Linked DNA regions of Homo sapiens. The protein of the gene in region 1 interacts with the protein of each later gene in a pairwise test. Each region holds a gene or a part of one and is shown in the gene's direction. Other genes may lie near its edges. The genes, in order: TMEM128, SLC34A2, SLC26A6 and GAD2.

Region 1 (7,279 bases):
ATACAAAAATTAGCCGAAATTAGCCGGGCATGGTGGCATGCGCCTGTAGTCCCAGCTACTCGGCAGGCTGAGGTAGGAGAATTGCTTGAACCCAGGAGACAGAGGTTGCAGTGAGCTGAGATCATGCCACTGCACTCCAGCCTGGTGACAGAGCAAGACTCCATCTAAAAAAAAAAAAAAAAAAGTCTTTAAAACGTTTGTATCTTTTGATCTAGGGATTCCAATGCTATAGCTTTTACCAGGGGAATAATCACAGCTGTGTAGAAATAGGCACACATTTTATTGTGTTTTTATACAATCAATGGAAGAACTTTTTAAAACTAGCTTTCTTCTTGGAATGAAGAACAGTATCCTAAATGATAGATATTAACATTCACTGAGCACTTTCCATATGCCAGGTACTTTTCTAAGAGCTTTACCTGTATTCTCATTCCTGGAGGCGCTCACAGAATACCTGGGGACCAATGGGGCAGCTACACAGCACAGTGAGAGAACAGGGTGGTACTGGTCTGGCCTCAGAGTTTCAAGTAACAGAAAACAACTGAAATTAAAATTAATTTAAAAAAGGGAAAATTTAACCATCTGTAAAGTCTCAGCAATGGATAATAACAGCTAAGATTTACTGAGAGTTTTCTATGGGCTGCTCTAAAGACTTCGCATGTATTAATACTTTTAATCTTTACCCAATCCTGTGAGGTGGGTATTATTCTTAACCCCATTTTGCAAGTGAGGAAACTAAGGCAAAGAGTGGATAAGATGCTTTCTCAAGGTTCAAAGAGTCAGTAATGACAGGACCGGCAATGACAGCCAGGCAGGCAGCTAGCTCCAGAGCTCAGTTCCTTAACAGGATTAACTAAGGCTTGGCTAGATCTGGGAGGCGGCGCAATGCTACCAAGACCTCTTAGCTTGCCTCTCAGTGCTTCCTTCCCACGTGGGCTCCCATTTCCAGAACAGCAGCCCCAAGCCCAAACTGACCTCAGAGCTCACCATATCAAAGCAACCGTGAACATCTTCCCAGCCTAAGACGTGGAGGATGAGAGGTCTGTTTTGGGTCTTGTGCCCTCCCCTAGGACGGGGTCAGTCTCTGGGATCTGAGCAGGACCACTATAGAAAGCAGCAGTGGTTTCTCAGAGGTAGGCAGACACATGTATATCCATATTGAAGACAAGTTAGCTGTGCTCAAGGACCAAAGTAAGCACAGCTAATGGAGTTCCTGCCGTGTGCTCGGTGTTTGCAAGGTACTGGGGGATACCAAGACATGGTTGTTTCTCCCAATCAACTGGGGGAAACACAGGGCAAAAGGAAAATAACAATAAAGCTTGGTAATTCTTGGAAGAGAGACATGAATAGAGTCACTGGAACCCAGGGACAAGGGAACACTGATCAAGGGGCGAACAGGTGCCGGATCTTGAAGGCCTGGCAAGCCAAATTACTAAGAATAGTAACTACTGCTGTTTGGAGGCAAACTATGTATGCCAGGCACTAAGCTAAACAATCTGTATACATGTATCTTCACTCCAATACCCGATGTTTCACAGATGAGCAAACTGATACTTAGAACAATAAAATAACTTGCCCAAAGACCCACAGTGATGGAGGCAGGATTTGACAGTCTATACACACCTTGGATTTAACTATGTTGCTAAGGGGGGGCCAGTAAAGGTCACAATGAAATTCATTTGTTCCCCACAAGTAATCCACATTGAAAATGAAAATTTCTTAATTGGTAGCAAATCTGGTATCACATATCTATCTATAATTAGGGTGCCACAGTACACACATTGAAGGGTTTCTTTTCTTTTCTTTCTTTTTTTTTTGAGACAGAGTTTCACTCTTGCTGCCCAGGCTGGAGTGCAATGGGTGGTCTTGGCTTACTGCAACCTCCACTTCCTGGGTTCAAGCCATTCTCCTGCCTCAGCCTCCCAGGCAGCTGGGATTATAGGCGCTTGCTACCATGCCCAGCTAATTTTTTTTTTTTTTTTTGTATTTTTAGTAGAGACGGGGTTTCACCATGTTGGCCAGGCTGGTCTCAAACTCTTGAGCTGAGGTGCCACCTGCCTCAGCCTCCCAAAGTGCTGGGATTACAGGCATGAGCCACTGCACCTGCCCAAAGGGCTTCTTTAATGGACCTCAGAAATGAAGATGTGGTCATTAAATACTGGAATTTTTCCAACCTCCTTTTAAGTATCATCAATATGCTGTGCAAGTAGTGCCATTTAAAATTGCAGAGAAAAAAACTCTGGAAGGATTTCAGATCCAAATTCAAAGGCCCCGAAACCACAAAAGGAGAAACCTGATCTGACCTGAACATACCATGTATGGGAACCTGGGATAGCGGCGATGCTCTTGGGAGTATTCAGTTACCACGGAGGCCCTGCACTGACCCTTTTTCGAGGAGACAATCAACAGAAGATTGTATTTGATGGGACAAATTCACTTCCTGTTAACAAGGCTTCTAACCCCGTACGAGAGAGAAGAGAGGGCAAAGACTTCAGTTGACTTTGAATAAATGAATCCAGTTCTTTAGGAGTCTTGAAAGAAAAAAAAAACAGAAAAAAAAAAACAGGATAAAGGAGGTATTGTTTAGAAAGGCCATATGATCCACCCAGCTGTTAAATCCTGTGCTCCGAAGGGGGAAGAAAGGCTGAAGAAATGATAAATCAGTAGGGATTTGGTATTTCTCTCTTTTTTTTAATTTTTTTTATTTTTATTTTTGAGAGGGAATCTCACTCTGTTGCCCAAGCTGGAGTGCAGTGGCAGGATCACTGCAGCCTCCTTCTCCCAGGTTCAAGTGATTGTCCTGCCTCAGCCTCCAGAGTAGCTGGGATTACAGGTGCCGGCCACCATTCCCGGCTAACTTTTGTATTTTTAGTAGAGACGGGGTTTCGCCATGTTGGCCAGGCTGGTCTCAAACGCCTGACCTTGTGATCCGCCCGCCTCGGCCTCGCAAAGTGTTGGGATTACAGGCGTGAGCCACCGCGCGCGGCTGGCACTCTTTTCTTGAGTATTTCTTATTACATTCCTTTTACAAACACCCCAACACATCGAAGATATTAAACAGTGCCTACTAATTCAAATTTTACTTCCTATGTAGCTGGCTCTCCACCCCTGTATTCAACTCACCTGAAACCACTCTCCCTGCTCTCCCACACTGCAGCAGAATAAACTGCCCTTTATATGTACAGTGTTTCTATTATGCCCCATGTACAGTGTTTTTATTATGGCACTGTATTGAAGCTGCTTCCTCTACTAGATTCTTCTGTCCTCACCATTTTATCACATGCAGCTGCTCAGAAAATGTTGGCTGCATTGATGAAATGCTTTCATACATTTACAAATAGAGTTTTCTTGTAATATACCTCTGTGGTTTTCTTTGGACAAGGAGCTCCTCACGTGCAAGGCCATGTCTTACTCATCTTTATCTCCACTGCTAGCATGGTGCCTAACAGCTCCTACCAAATAGTAGATGCTCAGTAAACGTTTGCGTGGCTAAGCCCACCATTTCTCAGCACATGACACGCTGGGAAACGGCTGGGAGAGTAATACGCGGGATTATTGACGAAGAAAAAGTTGTGAACTCGTAACACACAGTTTGTGGGCGTGAGCAGTGTGGAAAACCGCAGTTTGCTGGGAAAGCAATTTAGTTCCCTCGGTTCAGGCTGGGAGGATTTTTCACAAGTGGCGAGGAGGAGGCTCACATGAACCACATACAGGTACTTCTCACTGAAACGCACAACAAATCTAGAGCCAAGTGTAATAACGAAACGGGCCCCAAGAAGTTTATTTAATGCCCAGGGCCCCCAAGTGGTCACTGCCAGGCTCTAGCATCCTGTCCAGCAGGCCTTTCTCCTCCTTTCAAGTCTTGCTGGACGACTCCTGAAAAGCAAAAGTAGGAAAAAAACTGGGGGCTGAGAGTGGAAGGCTGGACAGAGGGTATGTCTCCTGCTCTGGCACCCGGAAGCCTGCGAGGGCTTCGGAAGCGCAGCGTCTCACGGTCGCGCATCCCGGCCCTGGACGCATCCAGCGGCAGCGGTAATCCTGGTCCTCCTGGGCTTCCGTAGGTCGGAATAAACTTGGGAACTCTTCCACCGGCAAAGCTCAGTGTTTTAAAATTCAAATCACACTTGCCGACATGAGAGCGGAACCTTTGAGGCCGACTCCACCCTAGCTGCTCGCTAACTAAACAGCGAAGAGAACACAGTCTCCAATCCAAACGCCAGGAGGTCCAGACCCGGAGCGGACGCCGGAAGCGCTGTGTCTGACGTCACTTCCGTCGCATTTCGGGGCGGTACCAAGATGGACTCCTCGCGGGCCCGGCAGCAGCTCCGGCGGCGATTCCTCCTCCTGCCGGACGCCGAGGCCCAGCTGGACCGCGAGGGTGACGCCGGGCCGGGTGAGGCGCGCACCAAGCCGCCCCGAGGTTCTCAGAGGCGAGGCGTCGGAAAACGGCCGGCCTCCGGCAGCCCTGGCCCAGTCTGGAAGGACTGAGTTTCGGCTTTGCAAGTCGAATATTTAATGTCAGGGAAGATCCTTAGAATCGCGGAGTGCTGTGCATCGTCATTTCAGCTGCGCTTCAGAATTCTCTGGAGAGCTGATTTGACACCTATTTGGAAATAGCGATTAAAATTAAAAATACCCACCAGTTTTAAGTCTTAAGGATTTACCAGAAACATGCGTGTACCGCAGTGTACAATGATGTGCGCAGTGTTTCACTTCAGGATTGCTTGTAATAGCGAATTACTGGAAATATCTGCCTTGCCCGTCAGCAGAAAGCTGTTTAAGTAAATTTGGGTATATGTATACCTGACACATCAGGTCGACTCGTATGTACCAATGGGGATGATTTTCAAAGGGAAGTGTGGAACACTATGGTATGCCGCCATTTGGGTACAAAACAGGTAACTTGTGATGTATGTTCACCTGTGAATGCATAGAATATGGAAGAATTCAGTAGAAATTGTAAGTGGTGGTTGCTTCTGGGGATTAGATCTGAGGTTAAGGATGGGAGACAGATACTTCATTTTGGATATTTTTTATCTCATATGTTTTAAAACCACGTCCATTTATTACCTTTTAAAATTAAAAACACGAATAACCTCATGCCCAGGCATGATGATGTATACATTTTGAGGATATCCCAGAATATTACGAACATGCTTCCCAGGGTTTCCGATGGTCATCTAAAGGCCCAAAACCTCAGATGTGGACCATTGATTCTCACGTGAACCTAGAGGGCATGTCAGAATCCCCGGAAAACTTAATAGAAATCATCCATCTGACCCAACCCCCATCCACCCATTCTTTCAGATTGCGTTCCAGACAGGAAAAATGTCTTGTCCATCACCTGTCTAGACAGTGCTGTGCTGGAACTAGAGCTCTGGTGTGCCGTTTCCACTTTTGAGCTGTGTTTAAAGTAACTAAAATATTTAGTTATAGGCTGGGCAGGGTAGCTCACGCCTGTAATCCCAGCACTTTGAGAGGCTGAGGCGGGCTGATCACGAGGTCAGGAGTTCGAGACCAACCTGGCCAAATAGAGCAGCCTGGCCAAGATGGTGAAACCCCGTCTCTACTAAAAATACAAAAATTAGCCCGGCGTGGTGGCAGGCGCCTGTAATCCCAGGTACTCGGGAGGCTGAGGCAGGAGAATTGCTTGAACCCGGGAGGCGGTGGTTGCAGTGAGCCGAGATCAAACCATTCCACTCCAACCCGGGCGACAGAGGAAGACTCCGACTCAAAAAAAAAAAATTTAGTTATAAAAGTGTTCTTGGAAGACCACAAGTCCAGTTCATGCGCTAATGTTTGCCTTTGGCATTTTTCCTAATTAACAAGACTAATTACTTTCCTAGAAGAAATGTGAAACATAATATTAAAATTCTTACATTTCCAGGTGACATTGTTATTTCCGAAAGACGATGAAAGTGTAAATTTGATTTCACAATGTATTTAGAGGAAATAAATTGACTGTATTGACCATATTTTATAGTGGGCTCTTATTTTTTGTAAATATAAACCTATCTCAAGGGTTTTACAGAAGGATTTGTTATCATGGGAGAGACTGTTTCTTAGCTCTAGGAAATGATTTTATTTGGCTTAAGTGTAATTTTTCCTCGCAAAATTGTGGTAACTTAATAAGTTGAAATCTCCCTTATTTGCAGAAACCTCCACAGCTGTTGAGAAAAAGGAGAAACCTCTTCCAAGACTTAATATCCATTCTGGATTCTGGATTTTGGCATCCATTGTTGTGACCTATTATGTTGACTTCTTTAAAACCCTTAAAGAAAACTTCCACACTAGCAGGTAAGAAAATTTTATTGCTTTGTAAATTAAACCCAAGTCTGATTTTTCGTGTTATATTTTGTTAGTTGAATTCTTCAAACAGTAAGCACCTACTACTCTCTGCCAGGCCCTGTGTTGGAGGTGTGGTGATACGAAGATGAATATGAGATGGGGGTCAAAGGGTACATATTTTTAGTTATAAGATGAATAAGGTCTGGAGATCTAATGTACATACAGTATAGTGACTATAGTTAATAAGGCTGTATTGTATACTTGAAATTTTCTAAGAGTAGGTCTTGTGTCCTCCCCCTGTTACCCCACCAGTGGTAACTATGTGAGGTGATGAGTGTGATAATTAACTTGATTGTGGTAATAATTTCACAATGTGTGTGTGTGTATATGTATACACGTATATATATATTCATATATATGTATATATGTATATATTCATGTGTGTGTGTATATATATATCAAGTCATCACACTGTATACCTTGAATATATAAAATTTTAATTTGTCAATTGTACTTCAATAAAGCTGGAAAAAATAAAACCAATGAGAGGGTGTGTGCTCTGGGCACATACAGTAGAGTGGAATAGAACTGGAAATTATTTGTGTGCAAATAAATGTGTTGTAGGATGAGGAAGGTAGTAAATTTAAGAAGAACCTAATCCATTTGGGGAAAAGAGGGAGAAAGACTGACTGAAGGTCTTCAAAGACCAAGTACAAGAGTACTGGGAGGAAGAGCCGAGAACTGTGGCCAGTGGGAATTGGGTCTCAGGGTTGGTTTCAGAGGGTGGTTACAGCTGACAAGGTAACTACAGGGTGTAACTGTGTTAGAGTGGAGGTGAAGGTCCACAGTGGGAGGAGTGACAGCTTTGTGGCCAGACCAGATGTCCAGTAGTTCCTCATTCACAGGGACTGAGATCCTTTCAGTATAGTCTCCAGAGTTGACATGGAGGAGAGGGTTGGAATCATATCCTAGGGTCCTTACTGCACATTGG
Region 2 (6,422 bases), about 21 Mb from region 1:
TGATTTTTAAAGCCATCACTTCATCTTCCAGCCTCATGCGATCCCACTGATTATGACATAGTTTCAGTGGTGCCCCTTGCTGCGAAGGAGGCTGAGAAGGGCTGTCTTGATTTGGGGCTGCCATCTGTTAAACTAACAACCAGGAATCTGTTTGTAGGAAAGACAGGATCTGGGGGAATAAATAACAATCTGTAGCCGTGGTGGCTCCATGCCCTCCTGACAAGATTCTTTGTGGTCTTTCAGGCCAGCATATCTTTGTGAATTTCCACCTCCCGGATCTTGCTGTGGGCACCATCTTGCTCATACTCTCCCTGCTGGTCCTCTGTGGTTGCCTGATCATGATTGTCAAGATCCTGGGCTCTGTGCTCAAGGGGCAGGTCGCCACTGTCATCAAGAAGACCATCAACACTGGTAGGTACACTGCCCTCACTTGTAGGCCTCACATGTAGTCACTGCATGGGGTGTGGGGGTCCTTTAGATTCCCATCTAGCAATGGCCTCTGCATGGAGTTTCTCTCTCAGATTGGATCAGCACCAGAAGTGAGGATGTCATTCACCTGGAAATGTTCTTGGCATCCTGGGTGGGGTCTAGGGAGCAGGCCCAAGTTTCCATTGCATCTTGGCAAGGTCCTGAGCAGGAGTTCATATCTAGAGAGCTGTGAGTCAGGCCTTCCTTCTTAGCGGGTTTCCTGTATGCTCAGAGCTTTACTGGCTCTGTCAAGACCCCTTAGAAAAAGGACCCCAGGTGTCTGCCCTCGCCCCCACCTCCCTTCACTCTTGTAAAGGAAATGTGATGCATAAATACATCAGCATCTAGAGGTGGCCAATGAGACTGCTGGCTAAGAGGATTTCCTGCCAAGTAGGGTGTCCTGGCCAATGAGAGCTCGCTAAGCCAATGACATCATCACTTCATGAAAGCTCAGTGAAATATAGCCAAGAAAATTCGCCCCCCACCCCAGATTGTCTTGGGGAACAGAGCAACTCTGGGTGCTTCTGGGAAATGCAGGGCCTGATCCGGTGCTAGTTGGGTGGAGGACTCAGTTGGCAGGCATGTTCCAAGCTGCTACAGTTTCTTGATGCTCTTTAAGGCAGAAATGAAGGTTGAAGGTCAAATGTGGGTGCTGACAGGAGACCAGGGCAGGCGAGGAAGCATGCTCTCAGCACTTTCTGGAAGGAGAGTGGTTACTTGGGTGGGTTCACTCTTTCTAACCTGACCTCCAGGGAATCTGTGTTTTTGTTTTCATAACACTTACCTGTATCCTTGGTTTTTCCATCTGAATATGCGGAGCAAAAGACAATGGGGAATGAAACTGGATTCTAAAACTCTACTCTGTAATCTGAGACCATATATGGGATGATGTACAACCTCACCCCTAAGCCCAGCCCCTACCCCAGGCCACCAGGCCATACCTTCCCCGGAGAGGCCATGACATCTCTTCCTTCTGTCTTCCAGATTTCCCCTTTCCCTTTGCATGGTTGACTGGCTACCTGGCCATCCTCGTCGGGGCAGGCATGACCTTCATCGTACAGAGCAGCTCTGTGTTCACGTCGGCCTTGACCCCCCTGATTGGTGAGTTACACCCTGGCTTCTCCCTCTGGCCACCACTGCCATTTCCTGTCATCCCATGGGGCTGATATGTTTGTGTTTTGTGTTTCCCCCAGGAATCGGCGTGATAACCATTGAGAGGGCTTATCCACTCACGCTGGGCTCCAACATCGGCACCACCACCACCGCCATCCTGGCCGCCTTAGCCAGCCCTGGCAATGCATTGAGGAGTTCACTCCAGGTCAGGACTTGGGGCACGGGGACAGGGGCCCTGGGAGTGGGACCACCCATGGTCTTGCAAACTGGTCTCTAACAAGAGCCAGGCTTTTCTCTGTACTATCCAAAATATGGAACTAATATGTGGAGGGGAAGCCACGGGTAAAGTTTTCAGGACCTTGATATGAGAACAATCAAAACTATCAGTTCTGAGAGAAGCAGTAAGACCCTCATAACTGGTGGTTGTTTCAGCAAAAGTGGGGTGGCCCCTTGATATAGATGTGGAAAAGGTACTTAGGAAGCACAGACACCACCTCCCATCTCCTCACTGCCTCCTATGGGGAACTTTACAATTAGGAGAACTCCTTGGCATGGACCATCTATGTTACTTTGTGCAAGACCTTTGGGATTTGAATTTATTTATTTATTTTTATTTTATTTTTTTGAGACAGAGTCTCGCACTGTAGCCCAGGCTGGAGTGCAGTGATACAATCTCCACTCACTGCAACCTCCACCTCCCAGGTTCAAGTGATTTTCCTGCCTCAGCCTCCCGAGCAGCTGGGATTACAGGCACCTGCCACCACACCTGGCTGATTTTTTGTATTTTTAGTAGAGACGGGGTTTCCCTATGTTGGCCAGGCTGGTCTTGAACTCTGGACCTCATGATGTGCTTGCCTTGGCCTCCCAAAGTGCTGGGATTACAGGCGTGAGCCACTGCACCCAGCCGGGGATTTGAATTCTTATCTCACCATTTACATACTAAGTGACCTTTGGCAAGTGATCTAACCTGAGCGTCAATTCCCTCATCTGAAAGATGGAGGACATAACCCCTATCTCATTAGGATTATTATAAAGATCTGATGAGGCAAAGCCATCTGTGCAACAGAAATAGAAATTCAGGCATCTAATATAAATTAACCGCATATGTCATCCTAAAATTTTTTAGTAGATACATTTTTAAAAGTAGAAACAGGCTGATTCATTCTTCAATAATGTATTTGATCTAAACCATTATCACTTTAATATGTCATCTGTCAAAAATTGAGAGTCTTTGAAATCTGGTGTGTATTTCATACTTAAAGCACATCTCAGTGTGGACATGCGGCTAGTGTATTGGACAGTGCTGGTCCACAGCCTGGGCATGGAAATTGGCACCTTGGGAAAGTGACCAAGCGCCTGGCCTCTGGAGCCAGGCTCCCAGGATGTGAATTTCCACCTCTTCCATCTCCCACCTGTGGGACTTGAGGAGCCTCCATTTTCTCATGTCAAGAAATAATGGTTGCCACTCTGTAGAGTGTTTTTTGAGAATTGAGATAATGCACAGTTGAGTGCTCCTGGCCCTCCCAGACACATAGTAGGTCCTCATGGAATCCAGGTACCCTCTGGGCTGAGCCATAAGGACAAAGAAGGCCTGGAAGGCCCGAGACTGTGCTGCCTGTGATGCCTGCTAGCTTACCTCCCCCTCCTCCTCCCTACTGCCACCCGCATTGGGCAACAGGCCCCTCACCTGTCCAACCTCTTGTGTTGCAGATCGCCCTGTGCCACTTTTTCTTCAACATCTCCGGCATCTTGCTGTGGTACCCGATCCCGTTCACTCGCCTGCCCATCCGCATGGCCAAGGGGCTGGGCAACATCTCTGCCAAGTATCGCTGGTTCGCCGTCTTCTACCTGATCATCTTCTTCTTCCTGATCCCGCTGACGGTGTTTGGCCTCTCGCTGGCCGGCTGGCGGGTGCTGGTTGGTGTCGGGGTTCCCGTCGTCTTCATCATCATCCTGGTACTGTGCCTCCGACTCCTGCAGTCTCGCTGCCCACGCGTCCTGCCGAAGAAACTCCAGAACTGGAACTTCCTGCCGCTGTGGATGCGCTCGCTGAAGCCCTGGGATGCCGTCGTCTCCAAGTTCACCGGCTGCTTCCAGATGCGCTGCTGCTGCTGCTGCCGCGTGTGCTGCCGCGCGTGCTGCTTGCTGTGTGACTGCCCCAAGTGCTGCCGCTGCAGCAAGTGCTGCGAGGACTTGGAGGAGGCGCAGGAGGGGCAGGATGTCCCTGTCAAGGCTCCTGAGACCTTTGATAACATAACCATTAGCAGAGAGGCTCAGGGTGAGGTCCCTGCCTCGGACTCAAAGACCGAATGCACGGCCTTGTAGGGGACGCCCCAGATTGTCAGGGATGGGGGGATGGTCCTTGAGTTTTGCATGCTCTCCTCCCTCCCACTTCTGCACCCTTTCACCACCTCGAGGAGATTTGCTCCCCATTAGCGAATGAAATTGATGCAGTCCTACCTAACTCGATTCCCTTTGGCTTGGTGGTAGGCCTGCAGGGCACTTTTATTCCAACCCCTGGTCACTCAGTAATCTTTTACTCCAGGAAGGCACAGGATGGTACCTAAAGAGAATTAGAGAATGAACCTGGCGGGACGGATGTCTAATCCTGCGCCTAGCTGGGTTGGTCAGTAGAACCTATTTTCAGACTCAAAAACCATCTTCAGAAAGAAAAGGCCCAGGGAAGGAATGTATGAGAGGCTCTCCCAGATGAGGAAGTGTACTCTCTATGACTATCAAGCTCAGGCCTCTCCCTTTTTTTAAACCAAAGTCTGGCAACCAAGAGCAGCAGCTCCATGGCCTCCTTGCCCCAGATCAGCCTGGGTCAGGGGACATAGTGTCATTGTTTGGAAACTGCAGACCACAAGGTGTGGGTCTATCCCACTTCCTAGTGCTCCCCACATTCCCCATCAGGGCTTCCTCACGTGGACAGGTGTGCTAGTCCAGGCAGTTCACTTGCAGTTTCCTTGTCCTCATGCTTCGGGGATGGGAGCCACGCCTGAACTAGAGTTCAGGCTGGATACATGTGCTCACCTGCTGCTCTTGTCTTCCTAAGAGACAGAGAGTGGGGCAGATGGAGGAGAAGAAAGTGAGGAATGAGTAGCATAGCATTCTGCCAAAAGGGCCCCAGATTCTTAATTTAGCAAACTAAGAAGCCCAATTCAAAAGCATTGTGGCTAAAGTCTAACGCTCCTCTCTTGGTCAGATAACAAAAGCCCTCCCTGTTGGATCTTTTGAAATAAAACGTGCAAGTTATCCAGGCTCGTAGCCTGCATGCTGCCACCTTGAATCCCAGGGAGTATCTGCACCTGGAATAGCTCTCCACCCCTCTCTGCCTCCTTACTTTCTGTGCAAGATGACTTCCTGGGTTAACTTCCTTCTTTCCATCCACCCACCCACTGGAATCTCTTTCCAAACATTTTTCCATTTTCCCACAGATGGGCTTTGATTAGCTGTCCTCTCTCCATGCCTGCAAAGCTCCAGATTTTTGGGGAAAGCTGTACCCAACTGGACTGCCCAGTGAACTGGGATCATTAAGTACAGTCGAGCACACGTGTGTGCATGGGTCAAAGGGGTGTGTTCCTTCTCATCCTAGATGCCTTCTCTGTGCCTTCCACAGCCTCCTGCCTGATTACACCACTGCCCCCGCCCCACCCTCAGCCATCCCAATTCTTCCTGGCCAGTGCGCTCCAGCCTTATCTAGGAAAGGAGGAGTGGGTGTAGCCGTGCAGCAAGATTGGGGCCTCCCCCATCCCAGCTTCTCCACCATCCCAGCAAGTCAGGATATCAGACAGTCCTCCCCTGACCCTCCCCCTTGTAGATATCAATTCCCAAACAGAGCCAAATACTCTATATCTATAGTCACAGCCCTGTACAGCATTTTTCATAAGTTATATAGTAAATGGTCTGCATGATTTGTGCTTCTAGTGCTCTCATTTGGAAATGAGGCAGGCTTCTTCTATGAAATGTAAAGAAAGAAACCACTTTGTATATTTTGTAATACCACCTCTGTGGCCATGCCTGCCCCGCCCACTCTGTATATATGTAAGTTAAACCCGGGCAGGGGCTGTGGCCGTCTTTGTACTCTGGTGATTTTTAAAAATTGAATCTTTGTACTTGCATTGATTGTATAATAATTTTGAGACCAGGTCTCGCTGTGTTGCTCAGGCTGGTCTCAAACTCCTGAGATCAAGCAATCCGCCCACCTCAGCCTCCCAAAGTGCTGAGATCACAGGCGTGAGCCACCACCAGGCCTGATTGTAATTTTTTTTTTTTTTTTTTTACTGGTTATGGGAAGGGAGAAATAAAATCATCAAACCCAAAAGGAGTGTGTTGTTTTTAATTACAGGGAAATAGGGACCTCCTTGGATCTATTTTATAAAAATGTGAGGTCTCCTTTTACCTCGTTGCACTGCTAGGAGCAAGATGGGTCACCAGCAGCTGTACTGGAGCCACCCAAAAAAATTCGGCCAGGGTTCTCGTTCTTGTCGTGTCTATTCAAACCAGCACGGTCTGATCCGGAAATATGGCCTCAATAAGTGCCGCCAATGTTTCTGTCAGTACGCGAAGGATATCGGTTTCATTAAGTTGGACTAAATGATCTTCCTTCAAAGGATTATCCAAGTCATCTACTCAATGAAAAACCATGATAGTTCTTTGTACATAAAATAAACATTTGAAAAAACAAAACAAAACGAACAAAAAAAAATGTGAGGTCTCTTCCTTCACTGAATGTCACTACCCACCACTTACCATCTGACCCTCCAGCTGCATAATTTGTGGAGCCTCTTGTTCAAAAACCTGGAGAAAAGTGTCATTTTATATTGTTCAATGCCAATTTC
Region 3 (7,918 bases), on another chromosome or scaffold:
CCTGCTCCTCCGGCGGCAACTGAGCCGTGAGCGACTAGAGGAAGCCCCTGCCCCTGTTCTACGTCCCCTGAGCCGGCCAGGGTCCCAGGAATGCATGGATGCTGCACCAGGCCGACTGGAGCCCAAAGATCGGGGCAGCACCCTGCCACGGAGGCAGCCACCTCGGGACTACCCTGGCGCCATGGCTGGCCGCTTCGGGTCACGGGATGCGCTCGACTTAGGGGCACCTCGAGAGTGGTTGAGCACGCTGCCTCCGCCCCGCCGCACCCGGGACCTTGACCCACAGCCCCCACCTCTGCCCCTGTCTCCCCAGCGGCAACTCTCAAGGGACCCCCTCTTGCCATCCCGGCCGCTGGACTCTCTGTCTAGGAGCTCGAACTCTCGGGAGCAGCTGGACCAGGTGCCTAGCCGGCACCCCTCACGAGAAGCCCTTGGGCCACTCCCGCAGCTGCTCAGAGCTAGGGAGGACTCGGTCAGTGGCCCCAGCCATGGCCCCTCCACAGAACAGTTGGACATTCTTTCCTCCATCCTTGCCTCTTTCAACTCCTCGGCCCTCTCCTCTGTGCAATCTTCAAGCACACCCTTGGGCCCTCACACCACTGCCACACCTTCTGCCACAGCCTCTGTGCTTGGGCCCTCCACGCCACGTTCTGCCACGTCTCACAGCATCTCGGAGCTGTCGCCAGACTCAGAGTAAGTATGGTCCAGCCACCTGCTTGCACCCTCATCAGCTTAGGGCAACCTCCTGTGTGCCCTGCCCTGTGTTCTGCCACAGAAGGGGATGAGGGCTGGCAGACAGGTGTGGGCTACCCCAGGCTCAGCACAGCCAGAGGGCCACAGGCTGGGGACAGGAATCTGGCAAGAAATGGGGGTGTGACTAGCAGGGACTTGCTGGCTGTGTGACTGGAGCCAGCCAGCCTTCCCAGCACCTCCCAGGCTAAGGAGAAATAGGTGCCATCCGATGGGCTGAGCTAGCGAATGGGAGGGCAGGAGCTGAGGCCTAGAAGTGGGAGATGACCTGGAATATGCAAGGGGCAGGGAGGAGAGCAGGAGGCCTTGCTTGGGAAGGTTCGCCTAGGGGGTCATATAGGACAAGGAGAGGCTGGAAGTGGTGCCAGGATATACCAGGCTGAAGGGCTTGCTTTGTTGAGGATAAATCATTCATTCATCGATGTATTCAGTCAACATTGAGTTCCTCCTGTCTGTGGACACTTTGGGGTGGGGCTCACAGGAACTGAGTTGGAACCTGGTTCATCTCGGGTATGTGTGAAGCATCTGTGGGGAAGGGGATGGCGGACAGACCCAGGAAATAGCTGGATACACAGGAGTCCGAGAGGGACTGGTGGGAGTGGGGAGGAACCAGGAGCTTCCAGGTCTCTTGTAAGCCAAGAGGAGAGTTGAGTTTCAAGGAGGAGAAACAGCTGGGTCAGGCTCTGGGGGTTTGTGGGGTAAGAGATGGCTTGGGGAGGAAGGGGGCCCTAGGGGTGGGGCAGGGGATCGACAGAACTGAGCAGGACCCAGGGCAGAGAGAGGACAAAGGAAGGAGGAAAGAGCAGGGGTTTGGGGATCCTGGGGCTTGGGCACTGAGGGCTGCTGGGGGTGGGGACCAGAGGGAGCTAACCCACGGCCTGGGTCCCCCTGCAGTCTAGCTTTGGGGTCTGGCTGTTTGGGAGGTAGACTAGGGACTGAGCAGGGGTCCAGGCTCTGGAGTCGCACAGGTTTGAGTTTGAGCTCTGTGTCTTACCTTACTAGCTGCGTGACCTTAGGCAGAGGCAAGCTTTTCTGGGCCTCAGTTTCCTCATCTGTAAAGAAGTCTGTAGTAACAAACTCTTTGAGATGTGGAAATCTATGAGATAATATCTGTCAAGTGCTCAATATAGCATCTGTAAACAGTAGGTGCTCTTGAAGCACTTAGAGAAAACACCTGGGCAGCCAAGGAGCCTGGCTGAGTCTAGGGGCGCGGAATGGAGGACTCTGAGAACCCTGGAGTGGGCATGAAGGGGCTGGGGGCTAAGAGGCGAGAGCAGTGGTGGAGGCAAGGGAAGCAGCCAGGCCAAATGTGGTGGGGGAGTCCAGAGCCGCCTGACTCGGAGTCCTCTGGGCATCAACCTCTGATTTCCTCATGTGCCTCCAGAGTTCCCAGAAGTGAGGGTCACTCCTGAGGGGATGACGGCGTGGACGAGGAACAGCTGAGGGCGACAGAGGATCTAGGCTAACAGGAGAGACTCCAGGAGTGGGGGCAGATCCCAAGGCAGCCTCCTGCTCCCCAGTGGTGGGTGCCCCAGCTCTACCTGGTGTGGCAGGGCTGAGGCTCCATGTGCATCTGTGAGCATGCGTGTGACAGGTGCAGAGACGGGGGACTGGAGGGAGACTTTTATACGTTTTGTACCTTTGTAACCAGAGAGATGCTTATGTTATTTTTCAGCTTTTCTGTCTCCTGGGGGGTTTGAGGCTGGGCTGGGAGGGGGAGGGAGATAGAGGGAGAGATGCAGTTTGACCCCATTTGGGTCCTGAGCAAACCCTATGCTCATCTCTCTCTCCTTCCTGGGGTGGACTCAGATGGGTGGGACACATGCCTTCCTCCCCCTATTCCACCCCCAAGTTGATCTGAGTATCGTCAGGGGCCCAAAGTACAGAATTGTTCTTTGCTTTTTATTGAATGCTCCAAAGGCCAAACTTCTGGGGCTGGGGGTTGGTCTTGGAAACAGGGGTCCTCTGACTTCCTCATGGGGGCTTGCTCATACCGCCCCTCCTGGTGGATGTGTGTGTTTATTATGTGGAGTCCCTGCCACTTACTGCCTTATGACCTAGGACTGATGCTGTGGGGTGCTGGTGGAGCAGCTGATGTCGTGTTTACAGAGCAAGGCTTCCCTGTCTCCCACGGGGAGGGGCTCGGGCCTCTAGTCAGACATTCCTGCAGAGGGTCGGTGGAGGGGTCATTCACCTGCCCCTGCAGCAAGCAAAAGTTGTCTGTGGTGCCATTTGATTCCCTGACACTGCCCCCTGCTTGAATTGATTCCGAAGGGTAGGGTGGGAAGGTGAGCAAAGGGAGCAGAAACAAGGGAATTCAAGACCCAGAATGTAGGTGCCACTGCCTCCTATGTTTACAGGATCCTCCGTGGCCCTAGGCACCTGGGCTGCAGGAAGTGACTCCGTTCCACTCCTCCTTTATTCCCTTAAAAAGGGAAAAATGACTGTTACGACCCTGTTCACAAAACTCTTACTTTTGCTATTTTGTCTGCTGTCCAGAACTGAAGACTTTAAAATTTTGTTACTGTTTACAAGTCCAGATTCAAAAAATGTTTTTACTTTGTTTACAACTCAAAACTTTGAGTTTTACACTTTGTTTACAGTAGATAATTTTTTTTCCTTTGTTTCCAAGTGAAAGGTAGGGAAAGTGGGAGAGGGACTTGGAGGACCCACCTGTGAGGACCCTGACCTGGCCATCTTGAGGGGTTTTCTAACCCCCAGGTCTCCCAGGCCGAAGGTCAGCCTTGAGTCCCGTTTAACAGCAGATCCAGAAGACCTTGAGAGTAGGCGTCCTCTAACCACGGGGGAGAGTGGCTGTGCAGGGCTGGGGGGTGGTCTGTGCAGACACCTCCTCACCCACCACCCCATGCATACTCTTGGGAAGCAGCTTCCTGGGAGATTAGAAATTCTACTTCCCTGACTGGAGCTAAATCCCACCAGCCAGGACCCAAACTCTCCTTACCGAGAAGGACCCCAGCTCTTGAAGGGCTGAGTGGCCTGCTGGGGGTGGGAGGGTGTCTTTACTATGTCCTAGGTTTCGTAGATGCCCCTCTCTGGGGTTCCCCTCCTCCAGCCCAGCGGCCCTCTTTCCTGTCTGTGTAAATTGTTCCGTGAAGCCGCGCTCTGTTTTGGGAATAAACTTCTATAGAAAACAGTTGTTGCCTTTTCCTGTTGGGGGCTGGGGAGGTAGGATGGAAGCTGTGAATGATTCAAGCCAGACTGACCTTTGGGAGGAATCTGAGCCCCTCCCAAGAATATCCAGCTATTTTTAGCCCATTTCATGGCAGATCTCTTTCACCTTGAAATCTGGCCCCTCACTTTGTAATTGGGGCCTGATGTTGGAGCACAGGTGCTGAAAATAAGGTGCTAAGGAAAACCTCCCCGCTGGTCAAGGCAACGGCAACAGGACTTCCTAATTCTTCAGGGTCTGCAGCCCTGACCCGGCATTTTTTGCCCTCACCTGCGGTGAAACCAACCTGAGGAACTGCTCTTGCAGTTCCTGCCTTGCCCACCCAACAGCACTGACGCCCACCCAACAGCACTGACCCCCACCATTCTCCTCGGCGGCCCGCGCAGTAACCTTCTGGGAGCTACGTCCGGGCTGTGCTTAGTGCAGCGGAGGGGATCCTCCAACCATTTCTGGCCTGGGTGGCCAGAGTTAAAGGGGAGGACTTGGGGACCGTTGGCTCCGGGTCTCAAAGAGATGCGTAGTCGCAGAAAGCCTGCGGGTGGCGCTCTCAGCTGAAGGCAAGAGAGGCCCCACAGACCTGGATCCCCTACGAGTTAAGGCTGGGGTCACCGGCCAGTGGAGTTTCCTTTTCCCACTCCGTGAGCACCTTCCGCCGAGCCAGGACCTGGGATCAGCTCCAACCTACTCAGGGCCTGGGGGCGCGACTGCGGCCAGCCCGGCGCGGGTGCTTAGTTCCAGTTCTGCAGTCCCATCCAGCTCCGGGCAGAGGGCCGGGCGAGCAGCGAGAGGCCTCATAGGCCAGGTCGCCGGGGAGGAAGCGGTTAAATCCTCCTTCTCCAGTCTCTCCCCGCCCGGCGCGCGCCACTTAGGCCCCGCCCCAGCGCGCTGATTGGCCCAAGCCTCCCCGTCCTGCCCCGGGATTAGCCCCCGGGAGAGCGCAGCTGGCCTCACCCGGTCCCGGCGCCGCCTTCCGGAGCGTAGCGGCCTCTAGCTCGAGCAGCAGGAGCAGCCCGCACCGGACAACTTGCGAGCCATGGGGCTGGCGGATGCGTCGGGGTGAGTTCAGCGCACATTCCCGGTGGCCCCGCGCGAGCGCCTCGCTGGAGCAGGCATTCTCCGCTTGCGACGCCTCGCTGGAGCAGGCATTCTCCGCTTGCGACGCCTCGGTTTACCTCTGCTGATTTTCTGCAGGCGGCTGCCCCTCTGCAGCAAGGGGTGGGGGCGGGAGCCGGCGCGACCCCAGTCCCTTGGGCTGTGCGGAAAGCCGCTGGTGTGACGCCCGAGGGCCATCCCGGGCCACAGGGAGGCAGCTGCGTGCGGAGGAGCCCGGCCAGGAGATGTGCCGGCGGGGGTGCGTGGGGCACGGGAGTCCCTGGCAGCGGCCCGTGGACTAGCTGCTTTCAGCTGAGTCCCGAGTCCACCCAGCTCCACTGATCCCGGAGTGAGCGCTCCGGCCTTTCTGGCCCCAGTTGCCTTCCTACAGGGAGGGGCCAATGATCAAGGCTCCGCCCTCCAAACGCGGGTCCCAAGTTGTCGGGGGAGGGAGCCCTTTAAGAAGACCTGAGTGACTCACGTAGGAAAGGAGAGGGGGCTCTACGATCTCCTTGAGATAGCGGTCCCAAGAGTCTCTGAGGATCTTCCTTGCACCCACTCCACACTCCTCCAACAGTACAGCCAGGTTAGAGGCGCTTCCCAGGTGAGTTCCTGTCCCTCAAATGGGATCCTCTCCCCAGGTCAGGGCTTTTCCTAGATCAGAACTTTCCTGACTGGTGAAAGCTTCCCCAACAGGCTAGAGTTTTCCCCCAGGTAAGATCCTTCTGTGAGATCTATTCCCAGGTGACAGCTTTTCCCCATTCCACGTGGGAGCCTCGCCCGAGGTCAGAGCTTTCTCTATGGGAGAGTACCCCCCAGGTGAGAACCCTCTCCCTCTAGGTCTTTTCTTCCCATGTGAGATCTTTCTCTGACTTCAAGTAGGTGCCTCTGGGCAGAGGGAAGATTCCCCCTGTATCAGAACTTGCCAGGCTGATAAAGATTCCCTGGTAGGTCAGAGATCCCTCTAGGTGAGATTCCCCTTGAAAGCTTCTATTCCCAGGTGAGCTCTTTCCCCCACTTCAAGTGGGTACTTCCCTTTCCATGTGGGAGCCTCTCCCTCTAGGTGAGAGATTGCCACTCCAAGAGCAAGCTCCTTCTCAGGTGAGAGCCAGTCCTTGGCTTCCCCATAACAGGCCTGAGCCGTCTACAACCTGGACCCTGGGGCTGGAGGCCCAGGGGCAAGCTTGGCTCCAACACTTTCCTTCCCTTAGAGGGGAGGGTCTCATCTGAGGCCTGAGGCTTGGGAAAGGAGTTGCTTGAGGAGCTGGACCCCTGGTTTGCTGGACCCCTTCCCTGAGTGTGCTCTCAGCCAGCAGTGGGCTCCCGGGGCAGCTGGAGGAGGACCTGGGGACTGGAGAGGGACTGGGTGGGGGAGGGAGCAGCCTGGGACCTGGACTGGTAGAACACTCAGCACTGGGCTGCCACATCTCGGCTGGAGGTATAGCTAGTGCTCATCCTGCAGTCCCTACTTGGGGGACTTTGTCCTAGAAAGAGGCTTTCTCACCAGCCAAAGTTCAGGTACTGCCCCTGTCTGAGTTTGGACATGTGGCCCACAGATGCCAGCTGGGGGCTGGAATACTGTACCTTGATCTTAGGGCCTGGAAAAATCAGGTAGGTAACTCTCTGGTCCTAGGTGGAGGTGTAGGGGAGGTTGGGCCAGGGATGCCTTCACTGTGTCTCTCTGGTCTTGCCACCCCAGACCGAGGGACACACAGGCACTGCTGTCTGCAACACAAGCAATGGACCTGCGGAGGCGAGACTACCACATGGAACGGCCGCTGCTGAACCAGGAGCATTTGGAGGAGCTGGGGCGCTGGGGCTCAGCACCTAGGACCCACCAGTGGCGGACCTGGTTGCAGTAAGGCCAAGATTGGGGCCTGGGGGCGCTGGCGGGGCCCAGGTAGCCCCTGTTCCTGACACCTACCCCTCATATCATGTCCCTAGGTGCTCCCGTGCTCGGGCCTATGCCCTTCTGCTCCAACACCTCCCGGTTTTGGTCTGGTTACCCCGGTATCCTGTGCGTGACTGGCTCCTGGGTGACCTGTTATCCGGCCTGAGTGTGGCCATCATGCAGCTTCCGCAGGGTGAGCCACCTTCAGTGCGTCGGCCTGGAAACCCTGTGGTCTGTGATGCCCAAAACTGGGGCCATGACCTCTACCTTGGAACTATGGCACCTAACCCAGGGCTGGGATTCCCTTATCGTTTCAAGATCTGCTCTCCAGGCCTGCACTGCTACCATTCTACCCCTAGGCTTGGCCTACGCCCTCCTGGCTGGATTGCCCCCCGTGTTTGGCCTCTATAGCTCCTTCTACCCTGTCTTCATCTACTTCCTGTTTGGCACTTCCCGGCACATCTCCGTGGGTAAGTGGAGGCAGGCCTAGCCTTCCAGGAGGATGCCCACATCCATCATGGAGGGCAGGGTGAGGGGGCACTGAGCAGGGCAGGAGCGGCTGGGGAAGAGGGCAGCATTGGTGCTGCATCCCTGGGCTAGCCCACGAGTCATCCCCAGGCAGGACTAGACCCCTGACTGTAGGACCACAGAGGCAGGTGACCTCAAAGCCCTGGCTCCAGGAAGATGAGAGTGGGTGAGGCAGCCCAAGGGGCCTGGAACTTGGCAGAGGCCTGAGCAGCCTAAGGCCAGCCCTGACCCCTTCCCTACTCCACAGAGAGCCTCTGTGTCCCGGGACCAGTAGACACAGGTGGGACAGGGTAGATGAGACAGGGCCAGCATTTCTAGCCATGCTTAAGGGCCTGTGAGCTCAGGGTTTACTCCTGGCCTGGCCAAACCTGAACCGCCAGCACTGTCCCTGTTCATGCAGCCATAATCTGAGTACATTTATCCAGAACTGGAAGTCTCCTGGCCTCTCTCTTAAGACCAGGGCTCCA
Region 4 (7,024 bases), on another chromosome or scaffold:
CAAATGGCCAACCTTTCAGATTTGAATTCAGATTTTCACTTATTTTTAAGGAAATGTGCACAACACACAAGCAGGCATGATACAGACTAGCTTAGCAATTCAGCCATGTTATATAAGGATGTGTGTTCCTCCCAGCCACTGTATATGTGAGATAAAGAAAAAGGGGGGGAGGGGCAAATCAGATATCCTTAGGGGGAAATTTTTTTAAATGTACTTTTGTGGTCTCTTGGCTTTTCACAGGAGTCTTTATATTCCATCCATATTACAGCTTCATTTATAACATTTATTTGGGTGCATTCCGAGCTTTCATGTTATCTACACAAAGTCAGCCATTCATCTGCCCAGGTCTTGATTACCCTCGCTTTTTACGTTGTCTCTAATCATCCTGATACACGATGGCTGACACTTCATTACGGCAATAAAAATAAGTATGAATGAATTTCCAGGGGTGGGGAGGACTTTGTGGATCGAAGTTGATGTGTAGCCTTTAAAAGATTTGCTAGCAAATAAAAAATGTGAAATATGACATGAACATTCATCACCATAGAAACGTCATCTTTTTAGATTGCAAACATTTTGCTGATGAATTAGCAGTATTACGCTAATCAATAACAAACATTCTTAAAATGTTTGCTGTGAGAAGTTTAGTTCTTTTTTTCTTTTTGTTCACATTATTTGTACCAACAGAGAAGAAAGGTAGGCATACAAAAAGCCTTGGGACATAGATTTCTATCAAAGTCAGGCTATGGAATAGGAGTTTTGAAGGTGTATTAGACATCATCCTCAATTAACGTTCATGAAGAACCCACGTGATGTTTATACCAGGCATTAAAAATTTTCCTACCCCTCCTCAGCTTTTCCTGCATTCATAGTGCAATCCTGGGTGATGCTTTTAATTCATTTTTTGACCCATTCCCCATACCTTATATTTAGATACGTTAATAGTAAATTGCCACCTATTGTTTGTATTGCTACCAAACCAAAAAGAACCTATGGAAATGTTTTGTGTCTTCATCCTTGAAAGCTAGTGGTGCCTGAAATGCAGTCTACAGAGTTAAGATAATGGGAACTGCAAGTCAATGAAAGTAATAGTTCTGTCTATCAACGTTGCATTTAGTGCCAGGAAAAGATGGGCTAATTCAATACTTACATTTTGCCATAATGCTTATGAAACTGTTAGGTGTCACTGTAATGCATTTTATTTAAAGTTCAGATAAAAATGTGATGGATTAAGTTGGATTTCTAAGCAAGGCATATCAATTCAATCTCTCAATAGTTTTCATAACATATTTAGTCTGCTGGCCTTTTCCTTCAAATAGCATTTCAAAAAATTAACAGCAGTCATTTTCTCTATTCAGCTGGCAACTTTATAGATTTCTGTGCTATAACTGTCATACTTGTCATCTAATGCTATTTAGGGTATGTCAAATTAGTTACCATCCTTGCTACTACCAGACATTTTAATACTCCTCAAGAGATTATTTTATAAAATGCATATTATCATCTTGTTTCTACTGAGAGACCTTAACCTGATTTCCACTTGGGCTCCAAGCTTAGAGAGGAGTGAAGGGCAGTGGGAAAATGAAGTCTTCATGGATTGTTAAAATTACCTCTGTAAAAAGAAATGTTGGAACACGGAAAACTGAGCAGAGAATGATAGAATTCCAGAATAATTTGCATTTGCAGAGATCATTAGATTTGGTGCTAGTGGTGGTGGTGCTGGCTGGGGAAGAGTAGGACTTAAATGTGGTCCTGAATCTTTTACCAAACCATCAGACAAAGGGAATTAAGCGTCAGTAGATGAGGCAGCCCTAGTGTGAGTGTTGCCAGGACATAAAGAGCAGTTTGGACCGACTTTTGGCCTCTTCCCAACTGATCATGAGCACAGGGTCAGAGTTGCCTGAGGCTGGTTGTTCGCAGAGTCTGCGCATCCTTCCGGGCTCATTTGCTAGTCTGCAGGGAGCATCCCTGAGTCTGAGCAGCCAGTTCTCACATCTCAAGCTCGCCACCTTCCTGGCTGCATAGGCTGTGTGGCCACCCAATGGCTGACGCAGTGCGCTCTGCTCCCATCACAGGGCCTGGCAGGGTGGCGACAGCAGCAGGAGGCCAAGGGCTGCAGGGACACCTGACCTATGGGGGCAGGTCTCACAATTCCTTGGAGAGAGCCCTGCCTTGATTTGCTGGGCAGCCCTAGGAAGCAGCCTGTAGGGGCCACAGGATGGGAGCAAATGTCACTAGGGGAATATTTCTGCCAGAAATCGAGAGAGCCTGTTGATCTGACCTGTCAAACTATCTCCCTCCCTATTTTCACATCATCATCAGGGAATGAAATTTTTGAGGCAGGAGAGATTCAGGTGAAATGGCAGAGCAAGGTCAAAATATATATAGGGAGGAAGGGAAACCTAGCAATGAAAGCGTCAAACCTGTTTTCACTGTTTACGGAAAGTTATCATCAGGGTGAATTGGCCTTCTGATATCCAGAGGCACAACACACCCCTCACAATCTCTCTCCATCTTATGCACAGGTTTTCATTCCCAAGTTTCCCTAGAGTTAAATACTGTCTAATCATAGACACCACATTCATCCAGAAAATGAATATGAATTATAATCCTTATTAATTTCCTCACTTGAAAAAAAAAGGGTTAGGGAAAGAGAAATGAAGGAGCATCGGGAGGGAGGAAATGGCTGTGATTTCAGCTGCGAGCATAATGAAATGGGGAGTCAATGAGGCAGAGAGGAGTGAAGGGTTGCTCCAGACCTCAGTGGCCACAGCAGCAAAAAAGCCTTCTCACCCTTCGTGGATGGGTAAACTGAGGGGGTCAGCATCAGAGATAGAGGGGTACCACACGAGGCCACAAGGACATAAAACAATGCTGGAGAATGTACAATAGATACACAAGTCCTGATCCCGCTAAAATGGGCTCCCTCCCAGCTTATATCTTTACCCAGTGTCTGTCTGGCCACATGCCTGAGGCTGATAAGAGAGCACTCCAGTGCAGGAGATAAGCTAGCCATTGACTTTTGTCCCTGCTCTTCCCCATTGCCTTCCTTTATCTTGTTTTGCCTGTGCTGGAGATGAGAGACAATCACATCCCAGGCTTCAGACAGATGTCCAGGATGTGGAAGATACCTTTTTATCAGATGCTATTTCCACAATGGCCCATCTTCTAAAATTTTTGCTGCTGTGCAAATCACGGACCTATCGATGACAGGCTTTTGTGGAGCAAGAGGAGAAAACTGAATGCTAATGACATATTTATAATCACATTTTAAATAATAGCCTCAGGAGAGTGTGGATGTCAATCCATTTAGAGAGTTTTAGAGGAATCTAGAAGTTAATTAGATAAGCCTTGCGATGGACTAATCAGTCGATTGAGTATATCTTTCTGTATCTTGTTGATAAAACAGTGATGTTGACTGTATGTGGCCTTATTTTAAATCACAACTATGGAGGAGCGCTGTTGTTTATAATTAACAAAGAAGAATTGACAAGAATTAGCTTTGTCCATGCCATCTTTAGACAATCATCACCTTTTGAATCCAGGGCAAATCATTCAGCAGAGTGTCCTATTTTCTCATTTTTGCCCTGTCTTTTGTAATCATCAGCCATTTGTCACTGATATTATTATGAATGTTGGCATGCCTGGCGGATGTCATGGTATGACCGATTCTCAGAACGACTACAAAAAAGGACTTCTAGCAGCATGAGTATAAAGGAGAAGTTACCTGTCTGAATGGCTGTGGGTTGCAGTAGCATTTTAGCTTGCGAAAATATTGAAAATAGAAAAGAGACTCATGCAGATTGCAAACCATATTTGTTATATTTATAGGGTCCGATTAAAGGAAGATTTGTAGGGTATGTTTTAAGAAATATCAAAACCTAAAGTAGTCTTCGTGGTTAGAGGAAACGCTTTTATGGTGTGTGTGTGTGTGTATGTGCATGTGTGTGTGTGTGTGTGTTCTTGTGCATACACACGTGTGTACATGTTGGATTTCTACTTATGGATTTCCTGTTACTGACAGATCTTTCAAGGTCCTTTAGCTAGAGAAATCATGTGTTTGAGAGGCATTTATTTTCACTGGAGGCAATCCTGATTCTGGTATTCCATTTTATTCAGGGCATCCTAGATACTTCAATCAACTTTCTACTGGTTTGGATATGGTTGGATTAGCAGCAGACTGGCTGACATCAACAGCAAATACTAACATGTAAGTAGCCAAATGTGTTTTTATGTAATTTAGGATAATTATTAGTGACATTCCATAGTCTTTACATCTTATGTGAAAATCTGTTTTTTATTAAGTAGCCACTAAAATAGTGATACAAACTTCTGAAGTGTGAGTGTTCACTTTAATGTAACAGAAAGTAGTCCTGATACATCTTCCATGTAATCAAACTCTACAAAATTTTTAAAATACAAAAGAGACTTTTTTCTCACGTTTGATTTATTATTGTGCATAATGTCAAAGACAAATGGGACCAGATATTATATTTTAAATCATGTTACTCTGCAATATTTTTTATTTATTCAATACAATAAATTCCCCTCGTGCATTATGTCAGTAGTTGGAGCTCTTGACTGTAGGGATATAGAAAAAATAAACATTTTGGAAGGCCTTTTTGAAATAATTTTCTCTCTGCTTAATGTTATAATCATAACACTTGTAAATGTATGTTTTGAAAAAGGAAATAGTTCTGTAGCTATTGTAATGATTGTAAATTATTTATCTGAGTTACAGAGGTAAAATGTGGCCATTACTACATTTCAGGTTCACCTATGAAATTGCTCCAGTATTTGTGCTTTTGGAATATGTCACACTAAAGAAAATGAGAGAAATCATTGGCTGGCCAGGGGGCTCTGGCGATGGGATATTTTCTCCCGGTACATGATATTTCAACTTTCTTTGTGTTTTTTCTTCTAATATGCAATGCCTTGTTGTAAACCTAGGGAAGATTAAAAATCTAGCCTATGCCTCTGCTTAGGTTAAATAGACTGTGTGTTGATCAAAAGAATGACTGTGATTAAGTGCACATGACCATTGAACATGCCTCCAAGCTAAGTAACCCATGCTTGAACATCAGTTATTTGTGTGCAAAGTGAGCATAATCAGAGATGGTACTTACCCAGTGCTTCTACTGTGACCCTACAAACAGGATGTACGGATAATGTGGAACAAAGGAATCAAGATTCCTAATCAGGAAATTCACTCTCTGATGCTCTTCCTAGAATTAGTGAAAGGAAATGGGTAGCCTCATTTAATAAAGCATTTGCTGTTCAAGGGTGCATAGCAAGGTATATCTACTCAGTAGAGCATATGGACCACTCTGTCTTTGAAATAACAAGCACCAAAGTGGATTTACACTAATTTCAAGGAGGACAGAGAACGCTTTGGGAGAGAATTTCTTAGAGCAAAAATAGAGGGTGACGATTTCTTCAAGAGATTTCTCATCCCTTCTCTTCTTTATCATGCCATTCAGTCTTTTCCATCCTGCCTTTTTATCACCAGCCATTGAATTCTAAGCTCCATTACTTAGACCTCTTCCAGCCAAGAGAATCAACCTGAAACAAAAAGCTGTGCCCTTGGTTTACAGTTCTGTGTGTGACCTTGGTTTGATGCAGAAAAGAAATAGAAGTTAGGAAGGCAATGCAAAGAGAGTCACTGACCCATGGAAAAGAAACCCGATGTGCAGACCATCAGCTAATCAGTGGCAGGAGCGGATGTCATTAGTCCACTGAGACAGGACCCACCTGAGAGAGAGGCCAGAGCAACACCTGTCGTTGTGTCAGACAGAGCAAAGGCCAAGTGGTTGTGCTCTCTCTTCAGCAAATCTACAAAGACAAGCAAATGATGAGGCGGGGATAGGGGAGAAAAGAAAAAGTGAAAAGAAGAAATGATAAGCAAGAGTGACCCCAAGGCCAGGGCTTAAGTTAAGCATGTTTGCCTGCAAGCTCTGGTCAGCTATTTTATGTGTTTAAATATATAGCACAATTTTTCAGGTGCTGAAGGAAAAGGTGTTAGTTAAATGGAAGGGAAAATTAGCCTTTTAAAAAGTCATTGAACACCAGCTGTGATGAATTTTAAGCTAGCCTTTATTTTTTATGGCACTTAGTACTTAGTTTTCCTTTGGAAAGCCATCCCTGTTGAGGGAGCTTGGTCATCATTGCCTGATGCTTTGAAAACATTGTTCATGAGGAATGAGGTGGGGTACAGAGATCCACATCATTTCTACCTTTCTTCTTCCCACCCTTGTGTGGTTGGTTATAGGATTGATCTGTCCCTGAGATGAATCAAGAACATGCTGGGCTCTATTTTTTTTTCTTTTATTTGCATTTATTTTATGCTGAATTTATTCCCGTGCATAAGTTTTAATGGTCCCCGGGAGTAGGGAGAGGACAGATGTACCTGTTGACCCTGAAAATTTGACTAATTTGACTAACAGCTAGGCCTAATTTACCTGGCTGGTCTGAAAAACCTACATGCCCCAGAAAACATACACCCAGAGAAATAATTCTCTTAGGCAGTTCTGCTAGGCTTAGAGCTTACCCTCCACCCTCACTGATAATGGGGGATTTTCACATGGAGAAGACTTCAGCTTGAGCATGGGAATTATAGGCTTCCTTGGAGCCTAAAGACCCATTTGCTCTTACGCCAAGATGCAAGCCATAGATGTCACACTACAGTGCAGTGCAGACATTGCAAAGTTGGGAGGAGACAGCAGAAAAGGTCATTGCAACCTGTTTCTGCTCTACTTTCTACAAGACATCACAGACGAGAAGTGGCTCATCACATCCTTACTGGCTATGGATGCTATTCCCGGGAGCAACCAGCCTTGCTCCTGCAGTAAAGGGTCTTACAATTTAAGGGGTGGGGATAGAGAAAGCCACACATCTTATGCATCTGGGATCTAAAAGTCTCATTCCCTGGGACTCAATGTGAAGAGTTAGGTCTGTGACTTAAAACATACTGTGTCATAGCTCCATCAATAATATCCAAAGCCTTCATGCTTCATGGAAAGTCCTT

Evidence for each region.
Region 2: the proteins of TMEM128 (region 1) and SLC34A2 interact in binary tests that used the Homo sapiens proteins (3 or more experiments, as listed by UniProt).
Region 3: the proteins of TMEM128 (region 1) and SLC26A6 interact in binary tests that used the Homo sapiens proteins (3 or more experiments, as listed by UniProt).
Region 4: the proteins of TMEM128 (region 1) and GAD2 interact in binary tests that used the Homo sapiens proteins (3 or more experiments, as listed by UniProt).

The regions. Positions count from the first base shown.
Region 1 is NC_000004.12:4,245,220-4,252,498, reverse strand, and holds the start of TMEM128 (transmembrane protein 128), read left to right. Parts: upstream 1-4,275; 5' UTR 4,276-4,296; coding exon 4,297-4,393; exon of another isoform or gene 4,394-4,873; coding exon of another isoform or gene 4,874-4,898; intron 4,899-6,155; coding exon 6,156-6,297; intron 6,298-7,279.
Region 2 is NC_000004.12:25,672,844-25,679,265, forward strand, and holds the end of SLC34A2 (sodium-dependent phosphate transport protein 2B), read left to right. Parts: intron 1-243; coding exon 244-411; intron 412-1,452; coding exon 1,453-1,569; intron 1,570-1,661; coding exon 1,662-1,786; intron 1,787-3,291; coding exon 3,292-3,906; 3' UTR 3,907-5,905; downstream 5,906-6,422. UniProt on the Homo sapiens protein: Involved in actively transporting phosphate into cells via Na(+) cotransport.
Region 3 is NC_000003.12:48,632,449-48,640,366, reverse strand, and holds the start of SLC26A6 (solute carrier family 26 member 6), read left to right. Parts: upstream 1-4,905; 5' UTR 4,906-4,973; coding exon 4,974-4,996; intron 4,997-6,520; exon of another isoform or gene 6,521-6,731; coding exon 6,732-6,890; intron 6,891-6,976; coding exon 6,977-7,116; intron 7,117-7,282; coding exon 7,283-7,393; intron 7,394-7,918. Other genes in the region: CELSR3 (cadherin EGF LAG seven-pass G-type receptor 3 precursor), read left to right, coding at 1-693, 2,135-2,162. UniProt on the Homo sapiens protein: Apical membrane anion-exchanger with wide epithelial distribution that plays a role as a component of the pH buffering system for maintaining acid-base homeostasis.
Region 4 is NC_000010.11:26,219,768-26,226,791, forward strand, and holds part of GAD2 (glutamate decarboxylase 2), read left to right. Parts: intron 1-4,119; coding exon 4,120-4,210; intron 4,211-4,771; coding exon 4,772-4,884; intron 4,885-7,024. UniProt on the Homo sapiens protein: Catalyzes the production of GABA.